2 separate regions of the Homo sapiens genome follow, and region 1 is linked to region 2. The links come from fine-mapping of genetic effects on plasma protein levels. A gene starts in region 2. The other region holds a variant in brackets. All regions are shown on one strand. Distances are between the middles of the regions.

Evidence for each region. PIP is the posterior inclusion probability: the model's chance that the variant is causal. Protein levels are from antibody-based Olink assays in UK Biobank. Linkage for the fine-mapping came from a reference panel and not from the study's own genotypes, which makes the PIPs less certain.
Region 1: its variant is fine-mapped to the plasma level of the REG4 protein (UK Biobank, PIP above 0.99).

What each region holds. Positions count from the first base shown.
Region 1 is chr1:120,339,008-120,344,393 of GRCh38, forward strand. It overlaps the pseudogene LOC124904391. Among named protein-coding and RNA genes, the nearest start is that of NBPF8, 73 kb to the right of the region's middle. The variant C/T (reference allele first, on the strand shown) is at 3,121.
Region 2 is chr1:119,809,079-119,814,464 of GRCh38, forward strand. It overlaps REG4 (regenerating family member 4), which reads right to left and starts at 2,382. Exons shown (of 6, transcript NM_032044.4): 1 at 2,331-2,382.

The DNA.
Region 1 (5,386 bases), 530 kb after region 2:
CACATGGCTGAGAAACATCCAGGTACATTTAAATCAGTGACAAAAGAAAACATTATCCCTTAGTAAAATTACATAAAATAGGAAACATCTCTTACTTTAAGAGCAACGATGGTACTTGTTCCTATGGTGAAAACTGATGTTATCTCGATTAGTTAATTATTCATCCCAACACCTGGTCTTGCTTCCTTTTCCACCTCTAGCTATGTTAACACTAGAGTTCAGTAATTTGTTGATAAAGAATCTTAACTGCAGTATCTAACAGATCTTAGTGATTAAGCATATGACTTACCCTTTGTACAGATAAGTAAACTGAGGCCAAAAGAACTGAGGTATCTTATTAAAAATCAGAGAGCTAGTTAGTTGAAAAGTCCACCTGTCCTTCCTTTCCACATGTCTCACCAGAAAAACAGCAATGGTGAAAAGTCAACTCTGTTTTTAATGGGCCACTTTGTATATTTTAACTGTTAAAATAATCCAAGAAGATAGTAGTCATATACGAAGATCCTTTAGATATAATGTGTAGGACCAGCATTAATTTAATCAACCAAGTCTCCTCTCATTGAATTGTTAATTCATAATTACAAAGATGACATTACAGTAAATTAAGAAATACTGTAATTTCATTCTCTCCAAAAAGTATACATTGAAGTTTGGTGAATACTGTTATATTTTCAACTAGTAAATCAGTGTGCCAATTCTGGGTCTTAGGCATATTGTATATACTGGAATGATATTCACTTTAATTAAATTTGTTTTGAGATGTAGAATGTAATACAGATCCTACGTGTTTTTAAAAGTTCACATCAATTTCAAGCTTTTAAAAATGTATGTACACAAGAAAGCTTCTTTTGCAATTTATATGTTTACAAATGTTGCCATTAGCTAAGCTATATTTTGGAATGTGATCAAACAATATTGAATGTCAAGTCTTAACAGCAGGGCTGGTCTAAGGAATTCCCTCTAAGCTAAATCTGATCCTTTCATATGTGGCTACTGCTCTTTTAAACTACTGTATCCCTAAAGGGCTAAAAGGAAGAAAATCCTAACTTAATAAGTGAAGGCAGCAAGGCATAGTATTTGAATGGCTACCTTTCATTTTAACTCTACTTCTTAAATTCACAATTGGATTTGGGTTTGTTTCAAGTTGTTCACAATTTACTAACGAAATGTGCATCTCTCATTCTTCCCCCAAAAGAAAGAAGTCATCCACTCCAGCTACATATAAGTCTCCAATTTCTGTCTTACAACTAAACGTGAAAACCGAAATACCACTCATTGAAAAAAAAAATATACAGAGAATTGGCAGGCTGCATGTTTATGTGAACCTTCAGAAAACATGGAAACACGCAGCCCCAACTCACCAGGAAAATCAACACTTGTGATCAAACTATTTTGTGACATTTTATGTCTTTTATACATTTCACTTCATATCCAGTATTCCAGTTTTGCACCGGCTTGCCTGTATCAACCCCAAATCGCCTGAGAGCAATCTAGTACTGTAGCAGAACCGTTTCAACATGAAGAGTTCTGCTCATCGCCTGTGGCGTGGTCTTCGAAACACCTGAATCAAACATTGATTCCCCTCCCCCTGCTATTTAAAACCGAGGGACGTCAGGCTTGGGTTGTAGGTAAAGAAAAGCCACAGTAATCAAACAAGCAACCAAAATACCCGAACACGGAACACGCTAAGAACAAAGGAAACACAAGAGTGTGAACAGGAAATGAAGCAACTCTACACCCATAAATACCTTCTGGGGCCGCCAACATAGGTAAAAGTAAAGGTGGAGTCTGAGTATCTGAAATCTGAAACAGAAAGTCCTGTCAAAAGCTACCCCTGGAGTGGATTTGTTTTAACCCCGATCAGGACTTGGGCCCTCCATTTGGTGGAGTCAGGGGAGGCCTGGCCGGGCGGGAGGCGAGGGCTAGAGGGCGGCGAGGTCTCTCCGCGCAGCGTCCCAGGGGATGCGGCGCGCCCCCGACTGGGTGCAGCGGCAGGCCGCCCCCGGCAGCAAGTGCCGGGTGCCATGGCAACGGCGGGAATTTCCCGGTCGGGGAGGCCGGAAGCAGCCCCGCCGGGCTCGCGGCAGCGAACGCAAAATCCGATCTCTCTCCCGGGGGAGCAAAATGGACGAAAGGCGACCCCCCAGGCAGGGGCGCTGGGTGCCTTGGGAATCCGAGGAATCCCTTCTCTTTGCCAGTCGGAGGGGACTAGATGGAGCCGAAGGGGCCGGAGATGGGCCGAGCGCTGCCCCCCGGGGGTCTTCGGCGCCGGGCGCAGCTTACGAGCGCAGCGCAGCAAGCTCCATTCCCGGCCGCCGCCGCTCAGCCCATTACGCAAACCTGGCGGGTCCAACCAACCCCGCTCTGCCGCCGCTGCTGGAACCCAGGAGGCGTGCTTGCAGGCTTCGGGCACTACGCGGGGCTGGAAATACCACGCACTGCCCCTTCGCCTAGACCCCCGCTCGGGCCACGCGGGTTCTGCCCTCAAAGCTGGTAGCTGCCCCAGACTTGGGGGTGGGGGGAGGGGAAGGGGCGAGGCTGGCACCCCCTCTGGCTTTTGGCTCCCGTGTTCGTTGCAGCAGCTGTTGCCAAATGAACCCCGGAATGCGGACGTGCAAACCCTCCACCCCACCCCCAGCCACACACGTCGCGGTCAGAGAACTGGGAAGGGGGCGCGGGGTCCGAGGTTCTGGAAAAGCAAGAACTCACCTGCAAACAGGCAGTCCTCAGCTCTGGACTTCTGGATCACGACGTCGATATCCTTCTGAATTCGGTCTTGCCTTGAACACATCCCCATTAAATAAGTCCTTGGAAAAGAAGCAGCCGCTATTTCCACCCCACCCCCCTCGCACGCTTTCAGCTTTCGTAAATATTCAGTTAAAAATGAAACCTCTGGCCGAGGCAGGGGCTGAAGGCCAACTGGTTTCGGAAGTGATCCTGGGTGAGAGGAGGAGAAGGAGGAGGAGGAGGTGGAGGTCGGCTTTCCATTTCCAGATGTGACTGCCCAGCTGCTGCTCGCCGCTGCTGGATTCCAATTACCTCCCCTTCTGGCGATGGATTGGTGATGACACCGAGTCTCACTTTCTCCTTCCCCCGCCCGGACCAACCGCCGTGGGGGGC[C/T]GAGGGTGCCGGGGACGGCCGGAGAGCGATCACCGGCTGGGCGGCGGGAGCCGACGAGGGGCGAGCCCCGCTCCGGCTCAAGCGCGCACACCCCTCACGGCCCGCACTCCGGCCTTCCACACCCGTGCACACTCTCGCCCGCGGGCGGCGGCAGCCGTGCCCAGGCTGCTGCAGCGCCACCCGCCCGCCGCGGACCCTCCGCGCCCTCCGCCTAGTCACCCGGCCCGGCCGCGGGCCGCCGGGGCTCGCAGAGTGTCAGCCATCCCGGGCAGGAGTCGCGTCTCCCCACACCGACCTCCACTCGCGCCGGGAGCTGAGCGGCAGTGTAGGTAGTGAAGACTCCCTGGGGCTCCCAGCCTTCCCTCTCCGCGCTCTCCCCCCATCACTTTTATGAATTCGACTCCACTTTCTAAAGGAATTATGAGTCTTGTGGCAAACACAAACCGGAGTGGCCGGGAGGGGGAAAAGGGGGGAAAAGAACACCTTTAAAAATTAAAAAAATAATAAAACGAACAAATCTTTACTTGTTGCCACCTCAGATAACACGGAAAAAGCCTTGAAATTACCCCAGATGTGCACCCTCCCCTTCCCTCAGTGCCTGAGTCTTTTTCCTCCAGATCGAAGTATTTCAGCCCTTTTGGGGTGCCGTTTGCGAAACACAGCCCCTTTTGAGGGACTTCCTCTTCTTGAAAAGACTCACCAGTTCTCCCTTCCTAGGTGTTTCTGTTCATGAGAAATTGTCAGAATCAACTGGCACGTTCCAGGGTCTTCCTAAAGGACGGAAACCTGTTTGGCTTGCTTTTTAAAACCACCTCCTTTGACAGTCAGTCCAGGGAAAGCTACAATCCAGGTGTTCAGAAATGAGATACTGCTCTGATTCTCACTTTCTGTTCTGCCTAAGGACACCTCAGGCTGACGTAGCTGCCCCACCTCTATATTGGTTTATGCCCTAGGAGAGGTCTCCAGCAGGCACTTTTCTTGTTGATCTTTTCTCCGCTGAGAAGGCTCCCGCCAGTAGACCATGACTCGTTTTGCTTTGCATTCTCAGTGCCACGTACAGTGCCTGGAATACAGGAGGGTGGCCTAAATGTTGGCTGAATGCATGAATGGTCATTTCTTGCAGCCTCTTTTCATTACCCTGTCTCATCAGCTTTCTTATCAGAATAAGTGCCCAAGAGTGCCAAACTGTTTCAGAACCTTAATCAATTTAGTTCTGATTCTGACCGTGACAACATGATGTTCAGCACGGTACGAATGACTGCCATCTCTGAAGGAGTCTTAAGATTCTGTAGAATCAATGAAAGATTCTATGTTCTAACGCCTTTATCTTTCAGGAAAGAAATTACAAAATAGTTTCATTGTCCAGTCATATTCACTATGAGTTATAAGAGGAAACATTCTATCTAGAATTAGAAATACCATTTGACCCAGCCATCCCATTACTGGGTATTTACCCAAAGGACTATAAATCATGCTGCTATAAAGACACATGCACACGTATGTTTATTGCGGCACTATTCACAATAGCAAAGACTTGGAACCAACCCAAATGTCCAACAATGATAGACTGGATTAAGAAAATGCGGCACATATACACCATGGAATACTATGCAGCCATAAAAAATGATGAGTTCATGTCCTTTGTAGAGACATAGATGAAATTGGAAATCATCATTCTCAGTAAACTATCGCAAGAACAAAAAAACCAAACACCGCATATTCTCACTTATAGGTGGGAATTGAACAATGAGAACACATGGACACAGGAAGGGGAACATCACACTCTGGGGACTGTTGTGGGTTGGGGGGAGGGGGGAGGGATATCACTGGGAGATATACCTAATGCTAGATGACGAGTTAGTGGGTGCAGCGCACCAGCATGGCACATGTATGCATATGTAACTAACCTGCACAATGTGCACATGTACCCTAAAACTTAAAGTATAATAATAATAAATTTAAAAAAAAGAACAAAACATCACATTGTACCACATAAAAAAAAAAAAGTTGGATTTTGCAAGGAAGATAGACATCTGACTAAAGTTTGGCCAAGCAAGGAATCTTTGTTAGTACTACTTCTTGTTTAAGGAAAGAAGAGACATTCATCTTTCCTTCAAACAATATAAGTCTCTTTTCTTGTTTGATCACCTTTTATTCATTAAGGACCAGTTGAATCATCTGTTGGGACTTGGTAGCAGAGGATATTTCCTGGATAGTGTGAGCTATCAGGCCTTTAATGTGGGAAGTTTAGTTTCTATAAAAATAA
Region 2 (5,386 bases):
CAGTTTCATAGTCTGCATGGAGGCAATTTGTAAACCACCGAGCACTCGCCCCTGTTAGCTTCAGGAGGGCCAGCAGAGGGCGCCCAAGGCAAGCTTCCTCACAGGTAAGACGGATATGGGCATTCTGTTGTCAAGAAAATCCAATAGAATGGCTCCGACATTGAATTTTTAAATGTTAAAATTAAACGTGAGCACAGTGTCCAATACCCACATTTTACAGATGAGAAAACCTGAGGTCAGTAAGTATGAAGTCATTTGTTCATGGACACCAGCTATAAGCAGATCTGACTCCATCAGCACTCTTTCCTTTACACTTAGTTGACATCATTTTTAAAAATAAAGAACATGGCTTTATCTTTTCCCCATTAGCAAACAACACATGAGCTATTAGAAAATCAATGCAAAACTAGAAAATAAGAAGTAAATCCCATCTCCAGGAGATAATTTGGTGAGTAGCCTACAGATATCTTTCTATGCACCTCTCTCTGTGTACAATTTTATAAAAATAAGATCATATAGTCCTATAGCCTGGTTTTGTTTCTCAGAAACAGATTAATTGTAATACATTGTCTTGCACTCACATAACTTTCATGCATTTTTTATTTTTTCTTTAGTATAAATTCTCATATATAGGGTTGTGGCATCACACAACATGCACATTGTCATTTTAATACCCTTTGTTAAAATGTATGGGCTGTGATATTTACCTCATTAATAGGGCACTAAAAGGATTGGTTCCCTAAGCTCCCAGAGAATGCTTAATTTTGTCAAGTTTTTGGCTAATTTTGGTATATTAAAGAAGAACCTTAGTGTTTTAAAATATTTTATAATTACTAATGAAGTTGAACATCTTTTTATATAATGATTTGCTTTTAGTATTTGGTGAATTTTCATTTTACAGTTTTGCACATTTTTCTATTTCATTGTTTGTGAGATCTTTTTTGTATGTTTATTTGTGAGATCTTTTTTGTATGTTTATTGCCTTTCACGTGTTACTAATAGTATTTCTCAGTTTGTATTTTTCTCTTACTTATTATAATTTTTGCCATTCTGAAATTTTCAAAAATATTGTTATTTTTTATGTTTTTAAAAATAATTTTTAAATTTATATCAAAAGACTGGCCATTACTGTCACATAAGGTTAAAATATTTATCACTGTTCTATTTTCATCTGTCTGGGCTTTGTTTTAACATAAGTATGAAACTGAGTTCTGGATTTCCCTCCCAAATAATTCTTAAAATGAGTTAATTCATTGAATTCACATTTAATCATACTTTATGATTAAAAAATCTGAATATACAATCTAACTCTCAAATAATGGATTGCTTAAAGAGAATAATGTAAATGATGACTTTTCTGGAAAATCAATTCTGGGGTCCATCTGAACACTTTAAGGCAACATTAACTGAGAATGAGACAAAGCTTGGAGAGTGTGGATGTGACCTTCCCCACCCCTTACTTCTTTTTAAATCATTGCGTGAACCTTGCACTTTGCTAAACTTTCCTTCCAAAAGTAATAGTGTATTTTCAATGTCCTCAAACCCCTTTAAAACGCAAACAGAATTTCTCTGTCAAGGTGACCATCTGGGGGAAGGGAGAGGCAGCATCTTTTTTACTAATCTGTGAATAATTTTTAGTGAACTGATATTCATTGAATGTCTGCATGTCATGTTCATAAGTAAGCTGCACTGGGCCGGGTGTGGTGGCTCATGGCTGAAATCCCAGCACTTTGAGAGGCTGAGGCAGGTGGATCACCTGAGGTCAGGAGTTCAAGACCAGCCTGGCCAACATGGCACAACCCTGTCTCTATTAAAAAATACAAAAATTAGCTGGGCGTGGTGGCAAGTGCCTGTAATCACAGCTACTCAGGAGGCTGAGGCAGGAGAATCACTTGAACCTGGGAGGCAGAAGTTGCAGTGAGCCAAGATTGCACCATTGCTCTCCAGCCTGGGAGACAGAGCAAGACTCCATAAAAAAACAAAAACAAAAACAAAAACAGAAACAAAAACAAAAAACCTGCACTGTAGATCTCATGAATGCATGTTACAAATGAAGACACTGACACTTATGATTGAGTAACTTTTCTAAAGTTTCCCAGCTACCAGACTGCAGAGCCAAGATTTAACCCAACAGCTTGACACCAAAGCCAATGCTCTTTGCAGTGAAGGAAGAAAAGAAGGTAAATAATTTAAATCAAACAACACAGCAACAGAAAGCCTGACAAGCCTCACTAGAAATACAATTTGTCATTTCTGGCCTGGCTAATAGCTGACAGAGGAAAACAGATGTTTAAAGAAAGTCCCCCATCATCAACCGCGAGGAGGATTACCTGTTTGGCAACCAAGACTCTAAGGGCCCCTGCCTTCTTCAGTGTCTCCAGTGGTCCCAGTCAACGTTTCTGGAGCTTTTATATCTTCTTGCCTCAGGAATTAATAATCTTTACTTTAGTCACAAAGCGATAATATTATTTGAGAAAAACAATCCATCCATAAAAGTCTTATCTACAGTGAAAAAAATGAATCATATAAGAGACGGCTTCAGAATGTACGTAAGGTGTGCTTTGACTAGCCAGGAAAAGAACCTCTCCCTGTGTGCAAACAGAATCTTTTCTTCACATCACGTTATTAAAACTGACAACATCCTGTAATCTGTTATAAGCCCATCTTCCTCTCCCCTTATGTTACTTTTTCATGGCTGTCTTTTTATGCCTTGGTATGGTGGATTTCCTTTATTTCTCTTTTATTTCTAGAAGGATTTTCTGTCAGGGTCAGGAATAGGTTATGACCCATGCGGTGAGACTTGAGACCCACACACAGATTTTCCTTCCTAAAGCACCGACTCCACTCCTTCAACATGCGTGAGTTTCCTCAGAGATCTACTATTTGAGCTTCTCCCGCAGAACATGGATGATCATGTCAAAATAGCTTACATCAACAGAGTGTGTTACAATAACGGGTTTTCAGTGAAGTCATCAAATAAGATGCCAACAAAATCCTTGTGAGCAGCATAGGACACATATCCCCATTACACACTCAAGAAACCCAACCTTAAGAGAGATTAGAAACCTTCCGAGGTTCACAACACTGGTCAGCAGTGGACCTGGACACTGAACCTTGTCCTTCTGACTCCAAATATAGGTGTTTGCCAAAATACAGTTCTACTGAAAAATAGGCTATTTGAAAAGAGTAACAAGATTTTCTTTTCCAGTATAGATGGCAAAGGGTTAGGTTGTAGGTGCCAGAGATGACTCAACTTTAAACTACAGATTTAAGTCTGTAAAGGACCTTTATGTCTGGAAACTTTAAGTCTGGAAGGGACCATAGTAGTTATCAAATCTTACTCTTTTGTTCTACTGGTGAGGAAATTGAGGCCTAGAGAAACATTGTGACTAGTTTAATGCACAGACAGTTGTGGGTGAAGCTGATATCAGAAGCCAGCTTCCTTGCTCCCAGCTCACTGTTGTTTGGAAAATGCTACTCAACCTTTGTTATTAGATTTTTGCATCAGTTGTGTAAATTCATGGTAGGACATGAGAAAGTAATGCTTTCATGGTTCACAAAGAACATTTTAAAGAATCTCTCCCATCAGAATGTTTGACACAAACCTCTTTCTCTTTAGGCAGCTGGATGGGAATCATCATTGCTTCATGGCACAATGGCGTACAAAGATGTTAACTCCAAGCCTTTCAATTTCAGAAGTCCTGGTCCAGATGTAAGACAGAAAAGTTTTAACAAAATGGGTGATTAGATAGATCTCCTGTGTTTCCAGCAGCCATCCCAACCCTTAGTCTGCTATCCCCATGCCATTATCCAGATTTAAAGACTTGAGATGAGAGAGAAGAGAGTAGAACAGATTAGAAAACAAGATGTTCATAGGACTTTTAAGAGGTCTCTTACTGAACCCTCACATTGACTAGCTCCAAATTAAGGCATTGATAGGACTCACATAAACCTTTGAGATGTAAGAATGTAAAGGACCAGAAAATTGTCTGAATCAAAAAGGTCCACTGAATAGTAAGTTTATTTAAAAAAAAAAAGTCTACATATAAACACCTCATACATGAAATGGTCAAAGTGAGAATCCTAAAAGCCCCAAATCAGCAATGATCACCTTCAAAGTGACAAGGATGGGGATGGCACCATAATGGAGAGATAAAGTGGAAGCCAGGCAGCTTTCGAATAGTAGCTTTATTTATTTATTTATTATTTTTAATTTCAATAGGTTTTTGGGGAACAGGTGGTGTTTGGTTACATGATAAGTTCTTTAGCGGTGATTTCTGAGATTTTGGGGCACCCATCATCCAAGCGGTGTATACTATACCCAACGTGTAGCCTTTTATCTCCTGCCACCCCCCACCCTTTCGCCCGAGTCCCCAAAGTCCAGTGGATCGTTCTTGTGCCTTTGCATCCTCATAACTCCCACATATGACTGAAAACATCAGTGTTTGGTTTTCCATTCCTGAGTTACTTCACTTAGAATAATAGTCTCCAATTCCATCCAGGTTGCTGTGAATGCCATTATTTCATTCCTTTTTATGGCTCGGTAGTATGGAACACTAGCTTTAAAGTGCAAAGGAAAACAACTTTCAACCTGGAATTCTGTACCCAGCTAACCAACCATTAAGGGTGAGTATGACAAAAAGATATGTTAAAGTTATGAGAACGTAGTAAGATTGCTATCCATAGACTCATTGAAATTACTGCTTAAGCGTGTCCTTTGTCAAAAAATAAAATAATCCCAGAAGATGTGTTACAATAAAGAAATGTGTTGACTGTATTAGTTATAATAATGTTTAAAATAAAATTAATAGTAACTTTATTTCATTTTTAATATAAGTAGGAACAAAAATACCAGACAATAACAAACGAGATTAAAGAGAGTTAGGAATGAAGTTAAAATATTCTAAGATCTGATCATGATTAAATTGAGACTTCATTAGAAAATATTAATTTAAGTATATGTATTATCAGAGTACTTTTTTGATAATGCAAACTTGATGTTGCTGCACTTATGATGAAATATTACAATTGAGCCCCACATTCACCAAGACTTTCAGTATAGCAGGAAAATCTTTCTGAGTCGTACACCTTCATATCACTCTTGCCTCCAGCACTAATACTCCATCCAGTCAAATCTGTGCCCATCAACACCACATGTTGGTACTCCCTGGAACAACCCCATTCAAGGTCACACCTCCATGCCTTTTTTCATGTCATTCCTCTGCTTGCAATGCCCTTTTTCTCATTCCTTGTTTGGGTGTGTTTATTCATCTTTTAATTAGTTCATTCAATAAATATTGAATGTGATTAAGTGCAAGAATCTGGGTATATGGGTGTAGGTGTGGTAGGGAAGGGGACAGGAGGTGATAAAAAGTTGAAGAACAGC